5 separate regions of the Homo sapiens genome follow, and all the other regions are reported to be linked to region 2. Evidence: microRNA targets listed by miRTarBase, many of them from high-throughput screens and not tested one by one. Region 2 holds a microRNA gene; each other region holds the end of a gene's coding sequence.

Evidence for each region. Region 2 holds the annotated microRNA hsa-miR-8485 (CACACACACACACACACGUAU, at 1,404-1,424, shown strand). A microRNA usually pairs through its seed, bases 2 to 8, with sites in the 3' UTR of a target mRNA and lowers its output. Matches are read on the target gene's strand: a 7mer-m8 pairs with bases 2 to 8, a 7mer-A1 pairs with bases 2 to 7 and ends in A, and an 8mer does both.
Region 1: miRTarBase lists AMMECR1 as a target of hsa-miR-8485. Seed matches in the 3' UTR shown: 7mer-m8 at 2,107-2,113, 7mer-m8 at 2,109-2,115, 7mer-m8 at 2,111-2,117, 7mer-m8 at 2,119-2,125, 7mer-m8 at 2,915-2,921, 7mer-m8 at 2,917-2,923 and 2 more.
Region 3: miRTarBase lists ST8SIA4 as a target of hsa-miR-8485. Seed matches in the 3' UTR shown: 7mer-m8 at 2,568-2,574, 7mer-m8 at 2,570-2,576, 7mer-m8 at 2,572-2,578, 7mer-m8 at 2,574-2,580, 7mer-m8 at 2,576-2,582 and 7mer-m8 at 2,578-2,584.
Region 4: miRTarBase lists BRD10 as a target of hsa-miR-8485. Seed matches in the 3' UTR shown: 7mer-m8 at 517-523, 7mer-m8 at 519-525, 7mer-m8 at 521-527, 7mer-m8 at 523-529, 7mer-m8 at 525-531, 7mer-m8 at 527-533 and 12 more.
Region 5: miRTarBase lists FLVCR2 as a target of hsa-miR-8485. Seed matches in the 3' UTR shown: 7mer-m8 at 2,920-2,926, 7mer-m8 at 2,335-2,341, 7mer-m8 at 2,333-2,339, 7mer-m8 at 2,321-2,327, 7mer-m8 at 2,319-2,325, 7mer-m8 at 2,317-2,323 and 3 more.

The regions. Positions count from the first base shown.
Region 1 is chrX:110,195,130-110,199,129 of GRCh38, reverse strand. AMMECR1 (AMMECR nuclear protein 1) reads left to right here. Exons shown (of 6, transcript NM_015365.3): 6 at 496-4,000. The coding sequence ends at 610. Among named protein-coding and RNA genes, the nearest start is that of SNORD96B, 28 kb to the left of the region's middle.
Region 2 is chr2:50,693,444-50,697,595 of GRCh38, reverse strand. It overlaps MIR8485 (microRNA 8485), which reads left to right and starts at 1,334; the gene lies at 1,334-1,424. The region is part of intron 5 of NRXN1 (neurexin 1); the gene reads left to right.
Region 3 is chr5:100,808,543-100,812,542 of GRCh38, reverse strand. ST8SIA4 (ST8 alpha-N-acetyl-neuraminide alpha-2,8-sialyltransferase 4) reads left to right here. Exons shown (of 5, transcript NM_005668.6): 5 at 414-4,000. The coding sequence ends at 696. Among named protein-coding and RNA genes, the nearest start is that of MIR548P, 6.0 kb to the left of the region's middle.
Region 4 is chr9:5,916,101-5,920,100 of GRCh38, reverse strand. BRD10 (bromodomain containing 10) reads left to right here. Exons shown (of 8, transcript NM_001017969.3): 8 at 1-1,079. The coding sequence ends at 417. Among named protein-coding and RNA genes, the nearest start is that of MLANA, 27 kb to the right of the region's middle.
Region 5 is chr14:75,646,211-75,650,210 of GRCh38, reverse strand. It overlaps FLVCR2 (FLVCR choline and putative heme transporter 2), which reads right to left. Exons shown (of 10, transcript NM_017791.3): 10 at 2,044-3,810. The coding sequence ends at 3,739. It overlaps ERG28 (ergosterol biosynthesis 28 homolog), which reads left to right. Exons shown (of 5, transcript NM_007176.4): 5 at 1-420. Among named protein-coding and RNA genes, the nearest start is that of ERG28, 13 kb to the left of the region's middle. RefSeq lists an enhancer at 1,571-1,865.

The sequences.
Region 1 (4,000 bases), not on the chromosome of region 2:
CACAACTATTTGAGAAATGTGGCAATGAAAAGAAAGCCAGACATGGGGAAAAGTGAGAGTTCAGGATACCAGAATTAAGAAAAGTTGTTTTTGTTGTTGTTACTTAATGGTAAGACCTAAGTAGATGTGTGGACAGAGAAAGGAACAGTAAAAGAGGGAGAGGTGGAAGATTTCTGAAGAAAAATAATCAACTGAATCGAATGAGATGCATACTCCTGTTAGAAAACTGGGGCTGAGGGGACAATAAAATTTTTAAAAGAACAATTTAAACAAGGAGTAGTAGAGTGCAAAGAGCACTGGACTCAGACTTTTGATTTCCAAGTTCTGATCTTAGCTTTGCTACTTACTATCTCTGTGACCTTGGGCAGTCACTGCTTCTCTCTGGGACCCCGTTTCCTGATCTATAAAATTATCTTTAAGGTCCTTCCTAGCAGTGACAATGGCATGTCACCTACTTCTCAATGTTAACTTTTCTCTTCCCTGACTTTCTTTCAGGTATCGTAGTGAAAAGATGACCCTGAGCTATGCTGAATACCTTGCTCATCGCCAGCATCATCATTTCCAAAATGGCATTGGGCATCCCCTTCCGCCATACAACCATTATTCCTGACACTGAGCCGCACAACCAGTCACTGGGCCTCTCTGCAGACCTCTTCCCAGGAGACCCTACACCTTCTTGGTCTAGCTATCTCTTTTACTGTACCATTTTATGATGATAGTTTCCGTTGCCATGGTGAAGCTTCGACATCGTCAACTAAGATCATCATGGTAACGGGTAGAAAAATGGCATTTGTTAAGATCCTGTTTTATTATTTTAGATCGTTGATTTTTTTTTTGCAGCATATATAATTTTGGGTTTTTTTTTCCTTATAATATTATGTAGAATTTTGCTTTGCTGTCTCAGTCAGGTTTCTGTTTTTCTGTCCTCCTTGCCTTTCTTCCCGTTTTGCTTCCTGTTTTCCTTCTTCCTTCCCGTTTTCCTTCTTCCTTCCCTGCCTCCCTTCCTTTGACTGTGGATGGAAGAAAGTGTGCAGTTTTTAGGGATTTTACTTAGGTTCGTCTTTAGTTTTCCTCAGTAAGATAGTTGTTTTTTGATACCTGAGTTTGGGATTAATTCATATCAAATTCAGGTATTTGTATATTACTCTTGATTTTTGTCTGAAATTCACTTTGCTATGACAGCCTAGTAGTTGGGTCTTCACTCCTTAAGTATATGTTTTTCCCATGGTGAAAATACATGAACTTTAGTTCTAGTAGTGAGCATTCAAAGGTCCGTGATAGGGCTTGTCACAGAGAGAGAGAAATCATTTATCCCTATTGTGCTGGTTATCATAGAAGAGACTGCCTCACCACTTTATAGAACCAATTTGCAAACTAAAACACTGTTTGGAGAAGGTACAAACTACCTTTCAAAAAGGCTACAGGAAACATTTTATGAGCAGCAAATATTAGGAAGAGAGCAGATACAGAATTTAGTGCCTTTGAGAAGAATATAATTAAGTGGAATTAAGAGGGGTTAGAAAAAAGGCAATTTAGAAAAATATTCTTGTAAAACTTTATTGTTTCTATATGTGAAACAGAAGATTAGACAAATTCCTTACTCTTAAGTATTTTTTTAAGCTGAAAAAAAATTATTTTGAGCAAATAACCAATAAGAGACATTTGTCTATTTTATATTAATTTAAATTTGTTAGCTCTAGGTTTCAATAAGTCATGATTGGCTAGAATCCATTTTAGCTACCATCTAAAGATATGGTAAAGATAATTTAGTAAAACAAAAGTTCATATTTGCCATGATTTCAGATATGTTTGTCATGGGGACAATATTAGAGTTTTAGAGATACTATAAAATAGCTTGAATTTCTTTCTGCACTACATACTTTTGATAGAAACACATTTACTACATTGATAAGATGTTATGTCACACCTGTGAAAATGGAGTTGGCATTCAGATATGCTATAGTTAGAGCCCAGCTCATCTGCAAGTATAGTCTTCCCATGATGCATACAAAGATAACTTACTGATGTCGATAGGAGGTCCATACATATATCCCCAGGAAAAATGACAGATTATTCTGGAGGAAGATGACCTTCATTTTATGGTTATGTGTGTGTGTCTGTGTGTCTTTGGAAAAATATATATAATTTTTTCAAATAGGAAGCCAACATATCAAGTGATGAATTAAAGTATGCTGCAGAATATATATTCTAAAACTACAAAAAAGTCACTGAATATCAAAATGATACAGCTTATACATATAGTTACTGTGACAAGTGACAGACTGCTAGTTCAGAATTCAAAAATCCTTTCCTAGTTTGTGAGATAATGGGCTAAATTCCTTCTGCCTGCCACTGGGGCAAAGCAAATTGCTTTAGTTTTTGATGAGAGTTCTTAGAAGTTTGTTGGTATTCCTTCATCCACAGCATCCATTGTTGAAATAACCATTTTCAGTTGTGATGCCTTAACTAAGAAGCCAATTGTTAGCCTGAAATGCAATCTTGGTAGCCAGTTTCAATGAAGCTAGAGATTAGTCAGAAAAAGTTAGCTGTTGGGCTTTAGAAAGGGATTTTGAGTCCTGTCATTTCTACTTGGGAGCATTTTGGAGCAGATTAGTCTTTCAGTATAAAAACAAGTGGCTACCTGATGGAAACTTTTCTTACCCTTATAGGGAAACTGAGCACAAGCTGAATGATATTGTCTGCTGCAAAAAAAAACAAACAAAAAAAAAACAAAACAAAAAACAAAAAAAAGGAAAAAAAGGTAAATAAAACAAGCAAACTGAAGAGAGACAAAATAGACCAATATTATCGTGAAATCCATCTTATCCATCATCTCATCGGTTCAACAGGCTCCTCGTCCTGGGTGAGCTTATGGTTAGAAGTTTTTTTAGCAAAGATTTATTACATACATAGATGTGTGTGTGTACATATACTTACACATACATACATACATATATGTGTGTTTATTTAACGGTGCTAATCAATCTTGAGCAGGTCACGTGACTGGTCATGCGGACTCTAAAATCATATCAGATTTTTTAAAATCCTTGATATATGCAGATGTTATACAGATTTTCTTAGCAGTGTAATAACGTTAAACTGAAGAAATAACCATCCTGCAGGCTTCAAAGGACGAGGTCAGCAATATTTCCCAACATGGCTTGGGGGAAAAGGATAGTTTTGTCTCCTTTTGTATTCAAGTAATGCAAAGTGCATTTTTGTCTCTAAGTAGCTTTTGACTAAAAGACTTTGTAGTGTAAAGGGTGTTATACAAACTGTAATGGTGTGCTTCAAACAAATGCTAGACCCTTTCACCTTTGTCGTATATACAAAGCTGTTAATTATGTGGTATGAATTAACTTTGAACATGTTGAAATATGTAGCATGTCTTTAACTCAGACGAAGATTCTGATTGCACAGGTTGTGTTCTAGCCAGTTGTGATTTATTTGTTCAGAAACACAAATGTGAATTGCACTCTTATCATCAGAATATTGTATGAGTTCAGTGATCTTTAAACAGCTCAGAAGTAATACTTGAACTTCATTTGAGTAGCACAAAGTTTACATAGCCCCTTTTAAATGTTAATTCGTTCCATTTAAGTTTTCCATTTTCAGATGCAACTGGGTATTTTTCCTCTTGGAAATAGTACGTACTTTGCTTTGGTATGTAGCAAAAGGCTTCCATTTCTGGAAGGGTTTTCTTGTTCTTAAACAAGGTCAGCCAGGTACCAGATTCTAAAAGAACAAATTGTCCCCCACCCCTCAAGTGGCCTTCTGACTGCACGAGAATGTGCTACTACCCTCTGTAGTCTCCCCTAACACGAGAGGTCAGTGAAATTGATGGAGGAAGTGCAAGGCTTGCTTCCCCTCACCCTTAAAGCTTAAAGCAGTTGTAAGATTTTCAGTCCAGCACATACAGTCCCAGTGCCCAGCACACCGGAAGTTTGTATACTGGCCTCTTATCTTGTCTTCAAATGTGCAGGAAATTTGAAACTGTCAT
Region 2 (4,152 bases):
CCTTTCAGGGGAGTGTCGCGTTAGGTTCGGATGAAACCACAGAGGAAGTAACAGGCAGTCATTACGTTCAAGATGAAGGTACAACTGACAAAACCAATACATTAATTTTCCTTTCAGTCTGATTAAAATCCATTTCTCTATCTGACCATTTCTCTAACTTGTCAAGTTTCACTTTGAAAGATGCTCCAGTATTTCAAGGTCTTAACACTCTTTCCAACTTTTGTCACACACAAATTTAATGAGCATCCTCTCTCTTAGACATCATTGTAGCATATTAATCATATACTGTCCTAACTTACCTTATCAGCTTGTGACAATGAGTCTTTTCTAAAAAAACTTTTCCTGTATATTCAAAATGAAGACTAATGAAGTTTATTTATACAAGCTAAAAATATAACACTCAGAATTACGTGTGCAAAATATTCCCTGTAAAGTATATTTTATTTCTCTTTTTCACTTCCCATCTGCCCCTTCCAAATACATCTTTGTCTTCTGGTTGTTGAGAGGTTGCAGGGTATTCATATTGTCTTATTGCTGGTACAGTAGGACGTTTGTGTATGACCCAGCTTTGTTTGTTAAGGTGCTTGAAGTAAGTAATATGCTCTCAATGAGACAAAAGCAACAATTTGGAAACAAAAGTGGAAATTAACAATGCCACTGGTTTCTGTTTAAAGAATTTATGTATCAGGCTTTCATTGTGAATAAACTCAGTAAGCAGCTACTCAAATGATGTGATTACATGGTCTAGGAATATACTCTTGGTCTCCAAAATGACTTCTCTATGACTCCTGGTAGTATATGAAACTTAGTAATTAACACTTTCTACCATTTAAATCAAATAAATATGTTTATCTCTGTGAAAATTCAGGTATTCTTAAGAGAGCCTCACTGATCCTCACCCGAAAATTCATGCTTTGGTTTTAATGGGTGTGCTTGCTGGTTTCTCTACAGAGAGCTGCTTTGACAGTTGCAAGATAAAAGAAGAAATAGTTGCTCAGAACCACAAAGAAAATAAATAGACATTGGAAGAAGAGGCATAAACAGTTTTCTCCGCCTGCTTCACCCCATTGCCTTGGCTTTTCTTGTCTTTCTTCTACCTTATCACGACCTTCTTTAGCAAACTATGATTTAGCTTAGAGGAGAAGCATGTTTAAAGAGTTGTAAGACAGGTTTTCTTTTCTAACTCTCCATCAGAATATTACTTACTTCTGAGACTGTTTTTCTTATTTATAAGAAAGGAGATTTATAACACTGTCAGCTATCTGTGTGAAGAATTATGTACATTTCAAATTCTCATTTTTTCATATGTATAGAACATTTTATGGTCTTCAGTTCTGTGATATACGTGTGTGTGTGTGTGTATATAGCATATGTGTATACATACACACACACACACACACACACACACACACACACACACGTATATGTACTGTCTTTTAAAATTTCCATAGTCGACTGGGTGTGGTGGCTCTTGCCTGTAATCCTAGCACTTTCGGAGGCTGAGGCGGATGGATCACCTGAGGTCAGGAGTTCAAGACCAGCCTGCCCAACATGGTGAAACCCCATCTCTGCTAAAAATACAAAAATTAGCCAAGCATGGTGGTGGGCGCCTGTAATCCCAGCTGCTTGGGAGGCTGAGACAGAAGAATCGCTTGAAGCTGGAGGGCAGAGGTTGCAGTGAGCCAAGATTGTGCCACTGCACTCCAGCCTGAGTGAAAGAGCGAAGCTCCATCTCAAAAAAAAAAAAAAAAAAATCAGAGTCACTCTGGTTAGGCTTATTTCCCTAATCCTTTGGAATATTAGTAAAACTGAGGCTCAAAAAACTAATGCACAAAGTCATATGGATAAAAAGCGATATCTAACCATTTATCTTCAACTCTTCCTACTATAGCACGTCGACATTTATTACCGTGTTCTAGATAAAAGCCTTCTTAGAACTATTAACATATTTCACATATTTTAATCTCTCAAATTTTGTTTCTCGTTTTGTACAATAATTTGTGCTCCTAGAGGAAAGCAAAGACTTAGTCTAATCTCTTTGTCAAATGGAAATAGACTAATGTTACTTACTATGAATAAGAGACTATATCTCTGTCCCTAGCAAGATGTCTCTGGCTAAGGGATTACCCATAGTTAATAGAACCCAGGATCTATGAGGCAGGGCTACCTGGAGCATATGACATAAGGTACACCACTTTATGTTATATGATGCACCTTATCTGAACTTGATAGCTTATATCCTTGAAATTATTTAGCAAAGCTTGATGCTGGGCAAGATCTTTAATTCATGTGAGTCTGATTTGACAATCTAATCCTCACATTTGTCGGTAAATAATACAATTAAAATATTCTGAAGGAATCTCAAGTACAAATACCAAAGATAAGATGCCTTCCCCCCACCGCCACCCCCTTACCCAGGTTGAAATGTTACTGATAAAATATGTTGGTAAATAGTCTCCCTACTGCACTGGTGAAATCAAAGCCACCCTTAAGCAGTGAAGATGGCTAATTTAATTTCAGTAGTTATAAATCAAAATTAAGCCTAGGAAACTGGACCCATAAATGGCTGCAGAGAATCCAGCTGTGTTTATTCTAAAGGCACTCCCAGATCAATTTGCATGGAGGTGATTTGGCTATGAGATAAGGGAACTGTCTTTCAGCCCCATCAGTTAGAACAGTCACCAGGATCTAAAGTACCCAATCAAGAGAATACCCCGCAATTAATTTTTTATAAGCCAAGGAAAGACTATTGCTAAAATGTAGAATAAAGCCTTTATTTTGTAATGATTACTTTTGTTCCAGAGAGCATTTTCTGGATTAAATATGAATATTGGGGATAAAAGGATTAACCGATTTTACCTCAAATTCAGTAAGATAAAGAATGTAACCTCCACCTACTCATAATCAAATCAATTGATTTGTTCTTTGGTAGAATTGGTTTGATTTTCTTTTCCCTACCTTGAATTTAACCAAAGGATATGATGCTTCTTCGATTCTGACTTTGTAGAGATGAACAGAGATAAATCAGTTTTCTTGAGTGTTCAACCTTGAATGGACAATCCTCAGACTTAGAAATAATTATTTCAACTAACAAATATAGAAGGTTATGGAGACACAAAGAGGGACAGATTCCAAGGAGTTTTATTATTTACATCAAATGTTTTTTATAGTATACAGCTTAGAAGTTGACTGATTTATGGTTTAATTCCAACTATTATATATTCACCCATACATTAAGAGGGAAACCGATGCAAAAAGATAAAATAACATGCCCAAACAGACAGAATATGTAAATGTAAGAGACAGTGCTAGAACCTACCTTTTCCCCTCAAATTTCTGGAATCTTTTCTTTCTAGTCTAATCCATTAATTTACAAAGTTTAATTATATTCAAGTAACAATTCATACGTTTCTATTTGGTACCCATTATTTTAAAATGCCATTAAACATCACTTGCTAAATCATACACACGTTAGTCCCTAAACCTCAAAATAAAATGCTATGGGCTGGACGTGGTAGCTCACACTTATAATCCCAGTGCTTTGGCAGGCCAAGGCAAGAGAATCCCTTGAGGCCGGGAGTTTGAGACCATCCTGGACAGCATAGGAAGACCCTATTTCTACAAAAAATAAAAACAATTAGCCGACCATGGTAGTGGATACCTATAGTTCCAGATACTCAGGAGGCTGAGGTAAAAGGGGGACATGATGCCAGGAGTTTCAGGCTGCAATAAGCTACGGTTGCACCACTGCACTTCAGCCTGGACAACAGAGTGAGATTCTGCCTCTAAAATAAACTTCAAAATTAATTAATTAATTAAATGCTATGAAGTATACTTTAGGTTGCAGACATATCTGCAATTTTGAAAATATACCAACTTTCTGAAGTTGAGTTAGTAATATAGATATTAGGTCCTAGTTACCATCTCTTTATTTTCCCTTCATATTTTCCTTTGCAGTTAGTGGTTGCAAGCTGCATTTTAATGCAGAAATATCAGAGTTCATTGATTCAACGTATTTATTTCAGTAGTGCAGTTGTGCCATTTTTGCATTTGTGGTCTCACATTTTGTTCCTTGCCAGTTTATTTGACCTTTGCACGCAATTGTAGGCAGGAGGAAGTCCAAAAGTCCCTAGGTATAGTGGACCAAAGGAC
Region 3 (4,000 bases), not on the chromosome of region 2:
CTATAGGCATAGTTTCAAACTTTTTTTTCTGGGAGGATTACTTAATCTCTACCCAATTACCATGACTTCTGCAGTTGTATTTAATCCTTTTTGAGAAAATTTTACTCTGCATGTTATATAAATGTTTGCTATTATTCATTTCAAAGGTGAGATTCTAGAGTAATATTCACCTACATTCCAGGTCCCTTGGGTATTTATATGACCTCAAGAATAAGAAAGAAAATAAAGGATAAAGAAGAAATAAAATAAAAGCATCAAATTTTCTAAATGCTTAAAAATATTTCTTCAGTAATTCTTTAAAATATTATTCATAAAGATACCTTTTAAGTTTTCTGCATTATATACTTGCTATAGGATATGCTCTATGTGTGTCTAAATTCTTCTCTTCTTGATTTTGTTTTTTGTTTTTCCAGTTACTGGCTGACCAACAAAGTTCCTATCAAAAGACCCAGCACAGGTCTTCTCATGTATACACTTGCCACAAGATTCTGTGATGAAATTCACCTGTATGGATTCTGGCCCTTCCCTAAGGATTTAAATGGAAAAGCGGTCAAATATCATTATTATGATGACTTAAAATATAGGTACTTTTCCAATGCAAGCCCTCACAGAATGCCATTAGAATTCAAAACATTAAATGTGCTACATAATAGAGGAGCTCTAAAACTGACAACAGGAAAGTGTGTAAAGCAATAAAGCACATTTTGAAACAAACAATATGCACTTCTTTTCTGAAGATGCTTCCGAAGATTTGAAAATAGGATCCAAAACACGGCTGGGTTTCAGCATCCACCAATGAACTGAAAGGTGAATAAAGGACGTTCATGAGAAATCGACTACCAGCTGATGAAATACCTGCAAAGTGCTCTAAAAATTAAATATTTTGACTTTAAGGGTCCTAGTAAGTGCCACTTCCACTAAGAATACAGTTTGAATGTATAATCAGTAGTGTTTACAAGATCCAACAGTGCACTCATCATTAGTTAACAAAGCAAATATGTTCATCACTGTCAGGCTGCCCACAGCAACACCAAGCATATTAGAAGAGGAACCCCAGGAACGCAACTCAGACCTTGGGAAATTAAACCATCCTTGTCAGCAGAAGCCAAGATGGAAGCAGTTTGAGCAATGAAATCCGTAAGATTAAACAACTCAAGTAAATGCTTCAGTCAGGACTCTGAGTCTGATCATGAATTTTATGTTTTAATTTATGTTTTTTTTTTGTCTTCTGGAATCTCTTTTGGTTTGGATATTGGGATGCTTAGAAATCCTTTCTGAGATGCATATGAGTGAGGAAATAAACTTTAAGTAATTATTTTTAAAGTTCTTATACTTTTTAAAAGCTATCACACAAAGACTTTTTTTTTTTTTTTTGTCTCGCTCTGTTGCCCAGGCTGGAGTACAGTGGCGCGATCTCAGCTCACTGCAAGCTCCGCCTCCCAAGTTCACTCCATTCTCCTGCCTCAGCCTCCGGAGTAGCTGGGACTGCAGGCGCCTGCCACCACGCCTGGCTAATTTTTTGTATTTTTAGTGGAGACGGATTTTCACCGTGTTAGCCAGGATGGTCTCAATCTCCTGACCTCGTGATCCACCCGCCTTGGCCTCCCAAAGTGCTGGGATTACAGGCGTGAGCCACCGTGCCTGGCCGACATTTTTAAAAAAGTTTTATTTTGCACGGCTCTAAACCTCCATGTTATTTTCCAGTGGTGTAGAAGGTACCAGCTAAAGTGAACCACTATGTAATATTAGGCCATTCTAAAGGAAAGATGTTCCATGTCATCAGAGATGGTAAAATAGGCCGGGAAAAAAAAATCTTTGGTACCAAAGATTACACTTGTGTTTCTACACAGCAAACCATTTTTCTTTCATGAAAATAATATATTATTAACATGAATATATTATTTTGCTATTAATGTGAAAGTTGTCTCTAAATATTTTTTAATTTTCAAACTCATACTTTATTTTCATTTGAAATGTTTTTCACACCTTTTGCATTACATAATAATTTTGTGGAAGCATTTTGCCCTTTAGAATAAATATTAGATTGATATAGCTGAAATGTGACTTCCAGTTCTTTGATATTCCCCTTGTTATTCAAATAGAAATATGGAAATGCTTTATATATTACTGTTAAATTTCTTAGTGCAGAAATAACATTATTAATAGAGTATTGTTTTCAAAACAGAGATGATTAATTTCAAGAGGTTTAACAGTGAAATTGTGTCAATATTTTGCATTTAAAATGAATTTAATTGACCGATATTTTCTGTAGTTAAATTTAGTCACAATATCACATATGTTCTTCAAGAAACACATGAAATTATTAATAAAGTAATTAAAAAATTTTTAATGTATAACAGAATTGACCAATAGGCCAGTTTTCTGGTAACTTATGATAGTAGATTGTTTCTTTAGAAACTGGGCAGAAGCTCTGCATTCTCACTTGTACTTTGATTTCTTATTTCTTGGGCAGGCAATTTGAGGAAAGAAGAAATGGCATGGGGAATATATATGTTTTGTTTCTTAGGGAAAACAGTCTGAGAAATGAATAAAAAGCATGAAGTACGTGTGTGTGTGTGTGTGTTACCATGGAAAAGGATATTCACAGTAGTACAGTTCTCAATATTTTTAATTAGATGTCATATTTTTTTAATATAGTAAAACCTTGGGATATAGAATATTACATCTTTTGAGAATGTATGTGTCTCTAAGTAAGTAAAATCTAATGCGTATAGGAGACTGATAGCTAAAAATGAATGGAACATTAATGTACTTTTATAATTAAACCTCTTATCTATCAGAAATTGTAAGAGAATAGATACATGTTTTGAATGTAAAGTTGAAAAGTCTGGTTTACTTAATAAATTGAAAGTGATTTATAAAATCTAAATTTGGACTACTTGCAAATGATAAGCTATTCTAGTAGCCTTTAGTTTAAATCCAACAGAAATCTAGAAGTCACAAGCAAATATCTTAAAGGTAAAATCCATCTGGGCACTCATTTAAAGTATATCTTAAAAAAGCAGCAGCAAGGTACCTTGCCATTTTTAGCATATTTTCTTCCTTTTTCTTTTTTCTTTTTTTTTTTTTTTTGAGATGGAGTCTCACTCTGTCACACAGGCTGGAATGCAGTGATGCCATCTCAGCTCACTGCAACCTCCACCTCCTGGGTTCAAGTGATTCTCGTGCCTCAGCCTCCCAAGTAGCTGGGGTTACAGGCGCCCACCACCACACTCGGCTAATTTTGTGTTTTTAGTAGAGACAAAGTTTCACCATGTTGGCCAGGCTGGTCTTGAACTTCCTGACCTCAGGTTATCCACCCACCTCAGCCTCCCAAAGTGCTGGGATTACAGGTGTGAGCCACCGCAGCCGGACCATTTTTAGTATATTTTCAGTAAATACATTTAAACAATGTTAAGGCCACAGCACACATATCTCAGCCATTCATTGTTCTGTGCATTGATGTTTATCTCATAGATGCATTGAGTAGTGCCTTTTTAGCTTTTTCACATTACTTTGTCACCATATCCTTTGTGTTCTCTAAATACATTGCCCACTTCCAAAAATGTTCAGCATGAAAAAAAGGGCTTCAGTGTCGATTGAGATTGCTTTTGTTCATCTCAGGGATTTCAATAGTCAAGAATGAATTCAGTTAAAGGTATTTAGGGTTCAAAGAAGACAAACTGTACAAGCCCATTTCATTCCTTGTTGTATACCTTTCCATCTGCCCTCCCATTTTAACTATCTACTGTGGCCTTTTTATGGAAACAGAGCAAGATCAATGAAGGCTAATGGCAAGAATAAGAAAAAGAGTTGAGATTTAACCAATAGCGGAGCATAAAGGATCATGACAAAATCAAATTATAAAAGCATACTTGAAATAGGTGGAGCTTTTTCTTTTGAAAATATATATTCACAATTTTAATATTTTAATTTATTTTTTACTATTTAACCCTGTACTTGGCAATGCTCAGGCAGCTGATTGTGAAATATTCTTGTC
Region 4 (4,000 bases), not on the chromosome of region 2:
TTTATAAACTCTTTTGGGAATGCAAGTTCTATACCCACAGTACATACATCACCACAACTCATAAACACAACTGCTAAGGTTCCTGTTCCACCTCCTGTACCAACAGTATCACTGACTTCAGTAATTAAGTCTCCAGCTACTCTTTTGGCTAAGACATCTTTGGTTTCTGCCATTTGCCCCAGTAATCCTCCACTGCCAAGTAGCACTTCAGTGTTTCATTTGGACCCACCTGTCAAAAAATTGTTGGTTAGCCCAGAAGGAGCCATTTTGAATACCATAAATACTCCAGCATCTAAGGTTTCTTCACTCTCTCCATCTCTCTCTCAGATTGTTGTATCTGCCAGTCGAAGTCCTGCGTCTGTCTTCCCTGCTTTTCAGTCGTCGGGCTTAGAGAAGCCTGACAGAGCTGCATCTTGAATTTAGACTAAAAGAGCCAGTTTTTAAATAATGGGGCATTGTTTTGACTCCCATAAAAATTTTCAATGTTTATTATACTGTTGAAAGCATACTATACATTGTGTGTGTGTGTGTGTGTGTGTGTGTGTGTGTGTGTGTGTTTTAATGTATCTTTTCATTAGCTTGCAACAAGGCTTTGTTTTCTTGGGGAGGGAAAGATCTGTTCCATTTCACTTACTGTTCTGAGGAGGGTTTCAAGGTTCTGTGTTTAAAGTCAGGATTTACCTGTCTGTAGAACATAAAGTGAACAAAGTTTGAATAGTTTAGAGTAAGCTAGCCTTTTGCACATTTACATTGACATGTTTCTTCTTGAATTTGGACTGTTGCAGCATATCTATGATATGGTATTCAGTGTCATTAGTGAAATCTTATTTTTGTTTCTGTAAAAAAAAAAATACATATATATATTTATGCATTGTGAAAAATGCAGTCCATGATGTAAAATTGTACATATTCCAGAATCCCTAACAACCTGTACTAAATATATGTACAAAGAACTATGCTGTCTTATTTATGTTTTGTTTACATAATGTATAGTTTTTTAAGTATTTTAGTAATTTTGGACCAGTGAACTGTTAGCAACAATGCAGAAGAATCTGCATGTAATAAACTGAGTTGCTGTATTTCTTTGTTTGAATACCATTTTTAACGTGTGTTCTTGTTCCATTGAAAGAATACAGGATGTAATTGAAGACAGTCCTTTACAAGAAAGAATTAAGGGTGGGAAATTTGAATTAGAGCTAGCACTTGTACATGGCTTTCCAGCTTACAAATACTACTTTCACTTAAATCTTGTGTTTCAGAAAATGCCTTTTTTTTTTTTTTTTTTGACTCACCTGTTGCCCAGGCTCGAGTGTAGTGGTGCAGTCTCAGCTCACTGCAACCTCCACCTCCTGAGCTCAAGCCATCCTCCCACCTCAGCCCCCCAAGTATTAGGTTGGTGTGTAAGTAATTGTGGTTTTTTTGCCACTAATGCCACTAATGGCAAAAAAAAAAAAAAAAGCCACTAACGGCAAAAAACCACAATTACTTTCTCACTAACCTAATAGCTGGGACTACGGGCATGGGCCACCATGCCTAATTTTTTAATTTTTTGTAGAGATGGTTTCACCATGTTGCTAGGCTGGTCTTGAACTCCTGGTCTCAAGAGATCCACCTACCTTGGCCTCCCAAAGTGCTGGTATTACAGGCATGAGCCACCGCACCCAAGAATATGCCTCGTTTTAAATAAAAGGTAGCTTTTATATTTATTGGATCTTTATATCCATTATCTTGAGCTACTGAACTGTATACTCATCCTTCCATTTATAATGTTGTTAAACTTCATCACATGAAGTTATTGTTGGGGGTTGGAAATGATATGGAAGCATAGGCCTAAAGATTTCCTTTGAGACTACATCAAAGTGTATTTGTTATCAAAGTGGAGAGGGTAGTGAAAATATTCCTAGAAAGTCACTAAAGGCTCTCAGAAACCGCTATTTATGCTCTAAGTACTTTTCCTAGTCATGTTTATGCTCTACTCAAGTCACTCTCCCCGTTTTTCTGTCAGTTAAGAAAGCCCTGGGGAAGTGGGTGATATTTCAAGTGCATTGCATTGCGCATTGATGGTGCTCAACAAATGGCTGTATTTACCTACTCAGCTTTTAAAACAAAATGACCCAAAACTGTTTGCCTTTTGTCTCAGAAGAATTCTCTTAAGCCATTTTAAGAAACTAATTTACTGAATTACCTATGGCCCAACTTTAATCCCAGTGAAGGACCTAAACTAACCACTAAATCTCTCTCTTTTTTTTGAGACGGGGTCTTCTCTGTTGTCCAGGCTGGAGTGCCATGGTGCTATCTCAGCTCACTGCAACCTCTGCCTCCTGGATTCAAGCAATTCTCCCACCTCAGCCTCCTGAGTAGCTGGGATTACAGGTGTGCACCACCATAGCCCAGATAATTTTTGTATTTTTAGTAGAGATGGGGTTTCACCATATTGGTCAGGCTGGTCTCGAACTCCTGACCTCAGGTGATCCGCCCACCTCAGGTGATCTGCCCACCTTGGCCTCCCAAAGTGCTGGGATTATAGGTGTGAGCCACTGCACCCAGCCACTAAATCTCTTCTAACTCCTAAATCCAAAATTCTAATATGACCTTCATAGCTCTGTGTGATCTGGTGAACCTTCGTACTGAAGTCCCCACTTAAAGTTTTAAAAGCTCTTCAGTCTGTTCCTGCCTACCTCTCCAGCTTCATTTCAACCTGTTCTCCCTCTTGTTCACTGTACTCTAATTTTCTTTTAGTTTCTAGAAAATTCAAGACACTTGAAGGTCTTCCCAGATGTCTTCTTTGACCTAATGTTCCATTACAGGTTCTTATTACGTGTTATGTAACTCCCTGTCCTTGTCATACCTCAGCCAGCATTATTATATTGTGCAGTCACTCAGACTGAGAACAACATAGCACTTCTTCAAAACTATAATTACTTGTTTGAAATTATTTAATTTCAGGAACCTTATCAATCATCATCATTATTGTGCCAGCACCTGGCACACTGTATTCAATGTATATTTGTTGAGTAGGTGGGTGACAAATCTAGATAACCTCTTATTTAAGGTCTAGTTTACTTTTTAAAACTAATGCTCCATTTTTTAAACTAGAAATTCGATTAATGGATTTATATCTTCAAAAACCCAAATTCCTTTGCCTCCAGTTTTGTAGGTCATGTGGATTTCTGAGATCGTGGCTAGAGCACAAAGTTAAATTCCTGAATTCATTGTGTTTAGTGTTATTAAGGGTTCTGTAAAGGGCGTCTATAAAGGCATACATGAAAAGGAAGAAACGTCACCACAATGCCACCTGAAAAGATTCATGATACTGGAGAGTCATGTTTTTATACTTAGTATAGAATTAAGCCATTTGGATATCTGTGTTCTGTATCACCTAAAATACTAAGTTAAAAGATGCTGAAATAGCCTGCCTCCTTCTGGTGTGTTAGCACTTCCCTTTCCTCTCATTTCCTATGGTTTTTCCTGCCCTCACAAAAAGTTTTTCCTTTGTGATTAGTTTTATATATATGTTATATATGTTTTATATATGTTTTATATATAGTGATTAGTTTTATATATACATATATATACACACATATGTATATATACACATACATATATATACACACATACATGTGTAATACTAAATAGCTGAAGTCCTGCTCAAGTCCCAAGTCTCCAATTTTATTGGTGTATTTAATAATTAATTGAAATAGTTTTATGATTAAAGTAGTGATAGCTAGAATATGTACACTAAAATCAGTGGAAATGTTTGCTTGATCCAGTAGATCAACCTAAATTTAGAATTTTTTAACATTAAAAGCTTGAGAAAGTGGCAAATTCTGAAAGAGATCTAAGAAATTTGATAGGGATTTTAGTTAGCCAAAGTTACTAAAACTTAGAAATGATAAACAGTTTACCTGAAGTCATTCCAGAAGTAGTTTTGCCATCATCTGAGCTTATTGGCTTATTGTTACTATAATGTTGTCATCTGCCCCAGTTATTCTTACACATT
Region 5 (4,000 bases), not on the chromosome of region 2:
CGTAACTTAAATTAGATCATCAGAAAGTCCTCCCTGAGGAGATGGGATTTTTTTGTTTTTTAGAGACAGGGTTTCACTCTGTCACCCAGGCTGGAGTGCAGTGGCACAATCACACCTCACTGCAGCCTCAACTTCCTGGGCTCAAGTGATCCTCCTGCATCAGCTTCCCAAGTAGCTGGGACTACAAGTGTGTACCACCACATCCAGCTAACATTTTTGGGGGTGGGAAGAGATGGGGTCTTACTATGTTGTCCAGGCTAAGAGGTGGGATTTGAGCTGAGACTTGAATGCCCAGGAGTTAAATGTCTTAAGATATGGAGCAGGCCGTTAGAAAGGAGGGAGCAGCAACTGGAAGGTAGAATAGTCTTATTCAAGGAATAAGAACTATGTAATCACAGCATGGTGAAGAGTTAGGAAGTGAAAGAAAAGGTCAGAAAAGGAGGCAAGGGGCTTATAAGGGTGTGATAAGAAGCTTGATGTTTACACTTAAATACATTGGGAATTCTCTTATCAGTTAAGTCTCTTTAGGTGAAAGGACAAAACCTACCTTAAACTAGCTTAAACAATAAAGATAGCTGGCTCATATAACTGAAAAATTACAAGATTAGCTTCAGGAAGGGTTTGATCAAGACTCCAGCTCCATTTCTTTACGATTCTTTCAGCACTACCTATGTGTGCTGGCATCCTCAGGCTGACTTCTTTTATGGTACCAAAGTTGGTTGCAGAAATTCCAGGCCTCATATGCCCAGAACACTGTATCTAGAAAAATATCTCAATGGTAAGAACTATCTTTTCTTTACTTGTCAGCTATATTGTTAGGAGGCAGTAAAAAAGCAGTGATGACAGTTAATGTTTGAACACAGATCCACATGAAGACCTTATGAAAGGAGTGAATGAAAACATTGGATGATTTAGGTCCTCTGAGCATGTGTCATGAAAATGTGATGCCCTGGCCGGGTGTGGTGGCTCACGCCTGTAATCCCAGCACTTTTGGGAGGCTGACACGGGCAGATCATGAGGTCAAAAGATCGAGACCATCCTGGCCAACATGGTGAAACCCCGTCTCTACTAAAAGTACAAAAATTAGCTGGGCATGGTGGCGTGTGCCTGTAGTCCCAGCTACTTGGGAGGCTGAGACAGGAGAATTGCTTGAACCAGGAAGGCGGAGGTTGCAGTGAGCCGAGATTGCGCCATTGCACTCCAGCCTGGCGACAGAAAAAGACACCATCTCAAAAAAAAAAAAAAAAAAAAAAGTGATTCCAGATTAGTAAAGGCAGGGACCCAAAGGATCTAAAGAGATGTACAGTTAGAGTATTTAGCAGACACTATGGATATTAGATTTCTTAACAGCCCAGGCTTGGGTCCCTTCCTAGATCATTTAAAATAGAATCATAATATTGTTCCTCCCCAGCTACGAGTTGCTATAAATATGATGCTAGAATACCACAGGCACAGTACAACTCTCTATGGAAAGAATGTACAGAACACAGATGATAGTAGCAGCATATTCAAGTAACACGCACAAGGTGATCACAACTGGGGAGGGATGAGTAACAGGACGTTGGCCAGTTAGGAAGAAAAATGGTAACGCAAGACTGCAGCTGCTGGGACTGAGCCATGGGCCCCAGCCACAGCAAGCTGATGCATGGCTGAGGTAATCAGAGAACAAACATTTCAACCACCCTTTGAGGCAGAGCCAGAAACAACAGTGGACTCTCTCATCAGCAGTCACTCACATTCCAGCGCGTACACAGCATGGAAAGAGGTCAGGGTCGTGCTGGATGTTGAGTTGCAGTCCCTCCATGTAGGCAAACAGTAACCTTTACAGCCTTGTCTTTAAAAAATATCCCTCCCAGATGGTAAGGTCTGGCAACAGTGAGATGCTCCTGTGGAAGACCACAGTTGCTGCTTCTCTAGCCTCACACTCCCCCGCCCCAGCCCAGCCCTTCCCCACACCTAAGACAGGAGCCTCAGGAATGTGTGACAGTCTTGCAGGGACTTCTAAGAGCCATCTCTGCCCCACTGAATGATAAGGCAGACCACTTTCTGAGAAGTTTTTATTGCCTCGAAATGTCAGATCTTACAAATAGAAAACACAAATTATGTTTTTAAAATAAAGCAATAGGTTTGGTAAACATTTTGTTAATACCTTTTGAAGGGTTTATGAGTAAACATCTTTCTCTTTATCAAAAAGTAAAGCACACCCTCACCTCTCTTCCACACTGACTCACTACTTCTGCCGAAAACGTGGACTTCTTTCTTCTATTACATACAGCATGTTCCTTGCATCCATTGCTTGAATCTGTACAAACACACACACACACACATGCAGACACACACAAACCTGGCTCCTCTCAGGCAGTGGCCCAAGCACCACAGTATTGCAGCCAGCACAGGCTGCCCTGATATGCTGAGGCCAGGGCAGTGGCTGGAGCAAGACAGCACAGTGGTCACGATCACAGTTGCCCAATGCATAGGAAAAATTACCAAAACCTCATTTTTAGGAGATATTACCAAAGCCCATGAGTACAGCCAAACAGCAGGCTAGATAGGAAAGATCAGCTTGAGTTGGTTTAAAGGGAATCCCTTTAAGTTTAGAATATCTGATAAAGATTATCGCTCAAAGCAGGTGAGGAGAGGGGTTGGTGGTGCAAATACTGTCCCCAGCAGAGGTGAGATAAGCTTTTAATTCTAACAGGCTCAATTCCCATTTCAAGGGGCACCTTTCCTTCTACCCCTTCCCTCTTATCTCTCAGAAGCACCTTTGGATTTTCAGAGTAGAATGAATCAAGATTAGTTTTCAGCAAAGGTTAGAGTAAGTTGACGGGGATTACCCTGCCTTGGAATAAAACAAGCACTTGGGCTGATGGCTGAGATTCCCAATGCAACATCAAGATAAAGGCATCAGAGGTGACTGTGACACACAGAAGTCCCTGGGGAAGTACTTCTGTAAAAAAGAACCTTCCCATTCCCAACTCAAGCTACCAGAGTTCCCAAATATGTGCTTTCACAAATATACTCAGAAGGTAGCCCCCAGCATGATCACACCTAGGTAGGTAGCCCTCCTGAGTCGGTATCTCTGTCATGGCCACAACAAAGTCTTTTGTCAAGTTTATTATGGTTGGTTTGCTCAGCTCTTAGGAAAGAGGGTTTGGAGACAGACCCGTTAGGCCAGGAAAATTTAGGCCCACAAGTCCCGGTGGAGCTGTTCTGATGGAGTTGTTCTAATGGTGCTTCCTCTCCTGCAGAACTTGAGCAATCAGTCCGATGACCCAGGAGATGACCCCGGCAGAGCAGCTTGCCACTTATTAGAACTGGGCTTCATGAGAGGCTCTTAGGACACTGGAAATTTCAAGTTAATATCCTGAATAGGCTTTCTTCCTGTGAAAATTTTGCAGGCATTGTCCACGATGGATGGAGGAAAAGAGGGAAGGCAAGAGACCAAGCTAGGATTGACTCCAATATTCTCTGCCACCCTGTCCCAACACCAACTCCCATAACCTAAAAGGGGGTGGAGGTGGGAATCAAATTTGCATTTGGTGATAGGTGCAATTTTCTCCAACTAAATCATCCAAGCTCTTACGTGGGTTCTAGGAGGAATAGGCCATCCATGCCACAAATAGTCCCACTGATTCCCTCCAAAAACATCTCTAGCGAAGCCCTTTGTGCTGGCGGTGAGAGCTGTGCTGAAGGAAAAGGTGGGGTGTTCGTGTTCCCTGAGTTGTCACCACCTTCCTCTCAGAGATGATCCTCTGACACAGCAGTGGGCACTTTGCTGGTGTTGCTCTCCTCCTCCTCCTCTTGGAGTTTCTATAAAGCAAAACAAACAGGCAGTGCTGTGGGTAAAGGCACAGCACTCCACCCTGGCTGGAGCAGCTGCCTGGCCATGACTAATCAGTGGGGAATACAAGAGCCGGGGGCCACTCAGCATCCCAGAGAGCCAAGAAAGAGAACAAGAAAAGAAGCAACCAGCCCCTGCCATAAATGCACCCACAAACAC